Homo sapiens: one gene and its partner. The protein of the gene in region 1 purifies or fractionates together with the protein of each later gene. This does not show direct contact. Each region holds a gene or a part of one and is shown on either strand. Other genes may lie near its edges. The genes, in order: CMSS1 and MME.

Evidence for each region.
Region 2: the proteins of CMSS1 (region 1) and MME purify together in Homo sapiens (co-immunoprecipitation; one study listed by IntAct). This does not show direct contact.

What each region holds. Positions count from the first base shown.
Region 1 is NC_000003.12:100,170,760-100,174,586, forward strand, and holds part of CMSS1 (protein CMSS1), read left to right. Parts: intron 1-1,079; coding exon 1,080-1,140; intron 1,141-1,556; coding exon 1,557-1,644; intron 1,645-3,827.
Region 2 is NC_000003.12:155,181,042-155,184,254, reverse strand, and holds the end of MME (neprilysin), read right to left. Parts: 3' UTR 551-3,213; downstream 1-550. UniProt on the Homo sapiens protein: Thermolysin-like specificity, but is almost confined on acting on polypeptides of up to 30 amino acids. Biologically important in the destruction of opioid peptides such as Met- and Leu-enkephalins by cleavage of a Gly-Phe bond.

The DNA of each region.
Region 1 (3,827 bases):
GCCCTCAGAGCTGGTGGTCTGGATTGTTGTAGATAGATCTAGCTTCTTGACTACCTAGAAACTAAATGGACTGCCTGTCCTACTGGTGTAAGCCAGAGACTGTAAAGTGACAACTCAAAGGCTAAGTTTACCCTACAAGTGTTTGGCACCTAAAAAATTTGTGAGTGACTTGCCCATATTTAAAATCAGATTGCACATATAAAAATCTAGATTTCTGGCTTCTCTAAAAATCAGAGAGTCTTAGGCCCATAGTCTCACATCATCATAACTGGCAAAGCTGAGCACTAGTTGACCCCTTTACGGGGGGCATCACTCTCAAGTGCCCCTCAGTCTTCACCCCTGCTTCCCAGATCACCTCATTTACAATAACCCCCTGCCCTCATAGCTTTAATTCAGCCAGTCCTTTGTGTCAGTGGTTTCTTCTTACTTTTTTTCCTTCCTTCTTTGCTTCCTCTTTCCCTTCCTTCCTTCCTTCTTTTCCTGCTTTTTGGCTGAAGCTTCATTTCCACCTATAAAATTTTATAGAGGAATTTAGTCTACAAAGTAGATAAGAAAGGACAGCTGTGATAGAAGGATAGAAGCCCCCCCTCTTCCCCCTTTCAAGCTCATCTCCTGGCTTCCCTCATGGCCACCACAGGCAGACCTTTGTAGATGCCCTTGGCTCCACAGAGAACGAGCTGACATCACCGCTCCAAGATATCTTTTGCAACCAAATTTTGTATGAGAACTGCACTGCATAGTTGGAAGATGAATTTTCTGCCAGGGACCTGAAATACAGGAATTCTGTATTACAAATGAAAGGCAGGTCATGTGTTTCAGTAATCAAGGAAGCCTAAGTAAGGTTGACCTTGTGTATGGCAGTGTAAAGCCAACCCAGATATGTGCCTGAATAAAAGGCCACCCCACTCTCATTGCAAAGATTGGCTAACCTGCAAATCTCAGAATTTGTATGTACATATGCACATATATACACACGTATGCACACATCCTTTGAATAAAGCAAGACATAATACTTAAGTAGTCATCGTGGCCTAGAATGAGTTGGTTTTCTTAAGCATTCACCTGCTTCTTTTCATTAGGTCGATGACAGCATTCAGAGGAGACGGCAAAGTTATAAAATTATTTGCAAAGCACATAAAGGTAAGCAAGGGCCTGTGTGATCCCTAAAGGCCTCTCCCAGACCTCAGCTTTTTTCCTTTCAACCTCTTCTCCTAATCTCCTTAGCACATATTTTATTGAGTTCCTTCCTTATGTAACATTTAACAACTTTTCTGGTTTTTTAAATTCTATGCTTCTGCATACCTACCTCCCCAGTATGGCAGTCGCTACTGCCATGCTCTGTCCCTGTATAGAACCTGAGGCTTGACCCTTTGATTCCTTGAAGATTACCAGTTTTCTAGGGATATGCTCATCTCTGCCCTGGAAGTCGACCCTACACAAGGGTAGCTCCATTTGTATTTCACTTTCTTAACTTTGAGATAAAATGTTCTAAATTGGTGTAAGATAGCACTTTCTTAATGACTTCCTTTTCTTTCTTCTCTTTCATCTTGGAACAGGTCCAGGCGCAGGTAAAGTTGCTGGAGAAGCGTGTGGTGCACCTGGGTGTAGGAACTCCGGGGAGAATTAAAGAACTTGTTAAACAAGGTATGACAAGAGGGCAGTGATACTCTTGCCCAGGGCTGGGAGTTTGCCTTACCTACATGTGAGTCTCAGAAACTAAATTCAGGATATACAAAAACCAGACCTCTGTGTTAATTCAGGAATTGGAAACTCAGCCTTTAATCTCTGAAACCAACCAGCAAGTATAGCACAATAGGGAATGATAAGGACTGTGGCAAACTGAAGTACGTGTGCCCACCTAAACAGAGTCAAATTCCAGCTGCTATAAGCAGGTTAGTGGTTCCACATAGCCTTCATTCCACCAGTGTGCAGCCACTGCTTGAGTTGAGCAGTTCCCTGTCACTCCACTGAGTCTTGGGGAGACTCCCATTTTGAGGGCTGGTATATAAAACATACTAAAACAAAAAACGTAGTTTCCATGAATGTAATGCAGGCATTCCATAATAGTTCTTCCCAAATGTGTTTCTCTTTTAGTGCTTTACAGAAAGTATTCTAGACAACATCCACTGGTGGGTTTTTATAGTTTGCCAACTTTCTCAAAGCCAGTAGCCTAAGAACCTGCTAACCTGCCAATTATCTTATTACCTCTTCTACCTACCAGGCAGATTGAATGATTTCTTTTCAATACTTATTTCCAAATTACTTATGTATTATATAATAGAGCTTTTTTTTTAAATAACTGTCTGGAGCTATTCTCAGATTATTTTATATATCTAAAAGTAATGTGTTCATCAGTGTAGTAACTCATTATAGAGATGGTCATTTGCCAGGGAGCAACAAAAGCTAAAACTACTGTTGTTTCTCTCCAGATGAAAATCATCCAGGGTTAGTTGAACCCACTATATGCAGAGTTTTGTACAAATACCAACAACTAACAAATTTGGCTGCCCCTGACAAGGAAGGGAAACAACACTTTCGAGTTCCTACTTGTACGCAGCGCTACGCTTGACACCCTTACATATGTTACCTCATTTAGCACTCACAGCATCCTTACAGGCTAGCCTTTTTATTTTTTATGAGAGAGAACTGAAGCTCAGAGGGTTAAGTCACCCTCCCCAAGGTCTGTCAGTCTAGGCTCTCCTGGTTCTAGAGCCTTTTCCCCTCAAGGAGCTCCTGATCCAGCTGAAGAACTAAGTGTACATAGACTGAGATCGATAGCATGAGGCAGTAAATGCCAAGAGCCAAATGAGCACTTCTAAGTCCTACAAGAGTTGAAATGAGAAAGAGATAGTTATGCTGGCCTGAATCTGCAGGGCAGGGTCTTTAACTGATCTTTGAAGTGTGGGGAGGATTGAAATAGGCCGGGAGGGTCAGAGGAAGCATTCATGAATGGGAGAACAGCCCAGTGAGATTCTCAGAAAGCAGGCACATGCACATGGTATATCACAAGGAATTGATGAGGAGGTAAAACAATGTTGCAGTTAAGAGCCCCTGTGATGGACTCAGACCTCCAGATTCAAATCCCAGGTCTAGCAACTTACCAGCTCTGTGACCTTGGCAAGTTACTTAACCCTTCTCAGCCTGTTTCTTTGTGCGAACAACAGGGATAGTAATAGTAGCTACTTAGAGGTTTGTTATAAAAACAAAATGCCAATAAAGAGCTCAGCACAGTAAGTGTCACACCCTAAACACTTAACAAATATTAGTTATTTATTAAAGAGACCAACTTTCTTGCTTGGAAACTTCGTGGGCTCTAGTAGCAGCTGATGTAACTGGAAAGAAATTTGAGGAAAGTCCTTGAACAGTAAGCTGAGGAGTTTGGATTTTTGTCTTGTGGACATCCTATGGCATTTGAAAGTTAAGGAACAGATGAGAGGCACCAAGGCCTTCTATGAGACACAGATTTGGGAGTAATTGGCTGGGTATCAGAAGCTAAGGATGGACTCTCAGGTTGGTTCCTGCCTCCCTAACAGCTTTTAGCTAAAGATTCACCACCAGCCCCTCCTGGAATCCAGATTTTTTTGTGTGTCACCAGACTTCCCCAGCCCCCACCCCATGCAACAGGATTACTCTTCTCTGTATTTAAAAGAAAGAGAGGAAGAGAAAAAGCAAAGCTATCCAGACTATTGAAATCAGATCTCTACAGAGTTGTGAGACCTCAATATGAAGGCTTATTTCATATGGAAAAATCATTTAAAGGGCGATTTTTAAAAAAATATTAATGAAAATAATTTTTACATCTGATTCTAATTGGATGAATGGTTTCA
Region 2 (3,213 bases), about 55 Mb from region 1:
CAAAATAGAAGCACAACATTTTGTCTATGAGGTTGAAAGTGAAAGTAGTGTTTCTCACTGTTTTAGAGGAAATGCAAAATACAAAGAAGCAGAAATTAAGAAACCATTGTTAGATAAAAGATTAGAATGCGATAAACATGTGCCAGTTTGACCACCAGTCAGATGTGACTCCTCTGTCCACTTGACCAACCAAATGGTCAACTTCTTCAGACTAGAGACTGTGGATAAAGACACTTACTTTTGGCTTTTGCCTAAGTCATCTGATTATGCTAGTGACTCCATATAACATTTGATGGCCATTTCACTTTTGAAAAAAAATCCAATCAGAAAGTCATGGTGATCTTTGAAAAAGGGTGGGGAAAACAAGGACATAATGGATACAAAGCTTATATCATTCATTTTCTAAAAATTCAATTTGAAGCTAGTGGGAAATGCAAGACTACAGAGATAAAAGCTCCATTTAATCTTAATATTTTTCAAGAAATAAATGGGGTAGAGATTTACACAGGAGTTGGCAGTTTGGAACAGAGTTGACTAGGCATAAAAGCAATAGTATTAAAAACGTTTGTTTTTATTTTGTATTTTTGAGACTGGAAACTGATAAAAATTTCTGATTAGGAAACTTTGAGAATAGAGTCTTTCTTCTTTCCAAAATAACAAATGTCTTTTAGTTTGAGAGCTCCAGCTGTGGCAACAAGAATGATAAATGCTTTTGAGAAAATTAGCAAGGTTTTGCCCCACTTAAATGGTTAACAGTAACAGCAGCACAGACCCAAACTTGATAAAACTTTGGTACTTGTTATTTGGACTAAAATTTTGTCTCACTCGATTCAGACACGTAAATGGGAGTTTTCAGTTTATCCTGCCCACTGATTCATAACTGGGAGACAGATTCATGGGAAGGCAGCATTGGACACATACTCCTTCTCTTGCTGAGAACCACCAATATAATCTAATTCTCTTTTTTTAGGTGAGAGAAGCAGAGGCCCAAAGGAATATTGCAAATACCCAAGGTCACCCTGTCAGGAGTGGCAGAATAGGGCTGGAACAAGGACTCTTTTCTCTGGACAGCTTGCACCTACAATCCTTTCCATCTTGCACCTACAATCCACTCGAACACTGCAGCATGGAGGCAGACTCCTTGCCAACGGGTATTGTCGAGAGCTTCTTCCTACCATCATTTGTGAGTTTCATCAGCTCCCAACCCTTTGTGTCTCAGCTTCTAAACTTTCTTTCTTTGACCAGAACTCAGCCATAGTAGAACTGGATTTATGGATGGAATTAGAGATATGTCTTATCTGATGTGACAACTCCAAAGAATCGGTAGTGCTTTAGAGACATCAGAAGGCTCTACAGAACTCAACAAGAGTACCATGTAAAATTCATGATGTCTGGATGTGTGAGGGATAGGGAGGCATTGCTATTTTTGACTTTGATCTATCCTTTAGGCCCAGAAAATCTTATATTTGTAGACAGAGGGGATCCAGGCACTGGAGAGTTGTTCCTCCATAGGGATGGGAGCCTAATGTTTTAAAAAGCTAACAGTGAAGAGTCTAGTGGCTTTTTATAATTTGTACTAGTCACTCTTCACTTCTGGCTCTTCACCTGCTCTGACATGATGGAAATAAAATAAGTTAGAGACAGCTGTTTTATTAGAGCTGGAAGCTCCTATTACTCCAACTACAAATGTCACTTAGGTAAGTTTTAAATGTATTTTAGGGAAATATAAGTATACTTGTAACGGTGGTTGTGATAAAGGAGGAAAGGGTAAGGGTATCCACAGTTGGCTTGAAACTATAATTTCAATGCTTATAATAATTTTTGGAAGGATTTGAAGAAATAAGTCCATTAAAGGCTCAAGTAAGATGGTAACATGCAGTACATTCATAGTTGCACTATTTGTAATAGCGCCAAAATGGAAAGTTCTCAAGTGCCCATCAACAATAGGATGAACAAATTGTAATAAGTCCCACAATAGAACATTATTCTGCAATGAGAATGAAAAGATCCACAATCAGCACAATACAGAGGAATCTCACAAATGTAAGGCTGAGAGAAAGAAGCCAGGCACAAAAGAATACATACTGATTGATTCTATCTGCATAAAAGACAAAACCAGGCAAAGCTAGTGAATGATATTAGAAGTCAGGATAGTTGTTGTTCTGGGAGTAATAAAGTGACAAGGAGGTGCTTTTAGAGCGCTGGTACTGCTCTGTTTCTTACAGGTGCTGGCTACAGGGCCATTGTTCAGTTAAAGTTAAGTTTATTGAACTGTATACTTATGCTTTATGCAATTTATGTACATATGTTATAGTATTTCTGTAACTTTTTTTTTTAAAGGCAAATGGGCATTTTTCAAGAGACAGGGAACTAATACTCATCATTTAGATAGAAATTCCCTGCTTTCATCTTTTGTTAGGAAAAATAAGAATTTTGGAAGTGCTCCTCTTTTGTAAAATCTTAATCAAGTAATGAACGAAAATAGTCAATACAACAGGAAAAGAGAGGAACAGAAGCCTCAAAAGATGAATTCCTATCAAGCAGTAAACAGTTCTTTTCCAGAACTCTTTGTGACTTATAATTCTAGAAGGTCCATCAGAGGCCTCCCATTTCTATTCAGAAATGCACTTCTAAAGTTAGACAGTTGTCACAGTCTTAGGGAGCAATGAGTTCACAATTTCAATTTATTATCAAAATATTTCCATCTGATGACAAACCTGAAAAGACAGGAGATGCAGAGCTACATAGGTGCAGATTTGCCCTTTTATCAGAGACACTCTCAGGGACAGATTTAATTTTGAAAGTCCAATTTGAAAACCACAAGTATATATATCTCTAGACAACTGTCCAATGGCAATTTTTACCCTAAAGTTTGTGCTTAAATCTTTTCATCAATATGATTTATAAGTTTAAATAGTCTCAAATTTTCATCTGTATATCGCTTTATAGATCTTGGTTCACAACTGTTTATTTTAAGCTGAAACTTCAATATTCATTGATTACCTATAATAATAGTTACTCATAAATGTAGTTAATAATTAAATATAAAAATTATTATTTTTACATTTATATAAATCTCTGAAAAATACCAAGTTTTGAGAGATAGAGCAAGAAATTGCTTAGAAAATTGCAGGAAGCCTGAAGAATCTCAGCATCAGTCAAAGCAGGTACAACAAAAAACAATTTTAGACATTCATTTTTTGCTTTAAGAGT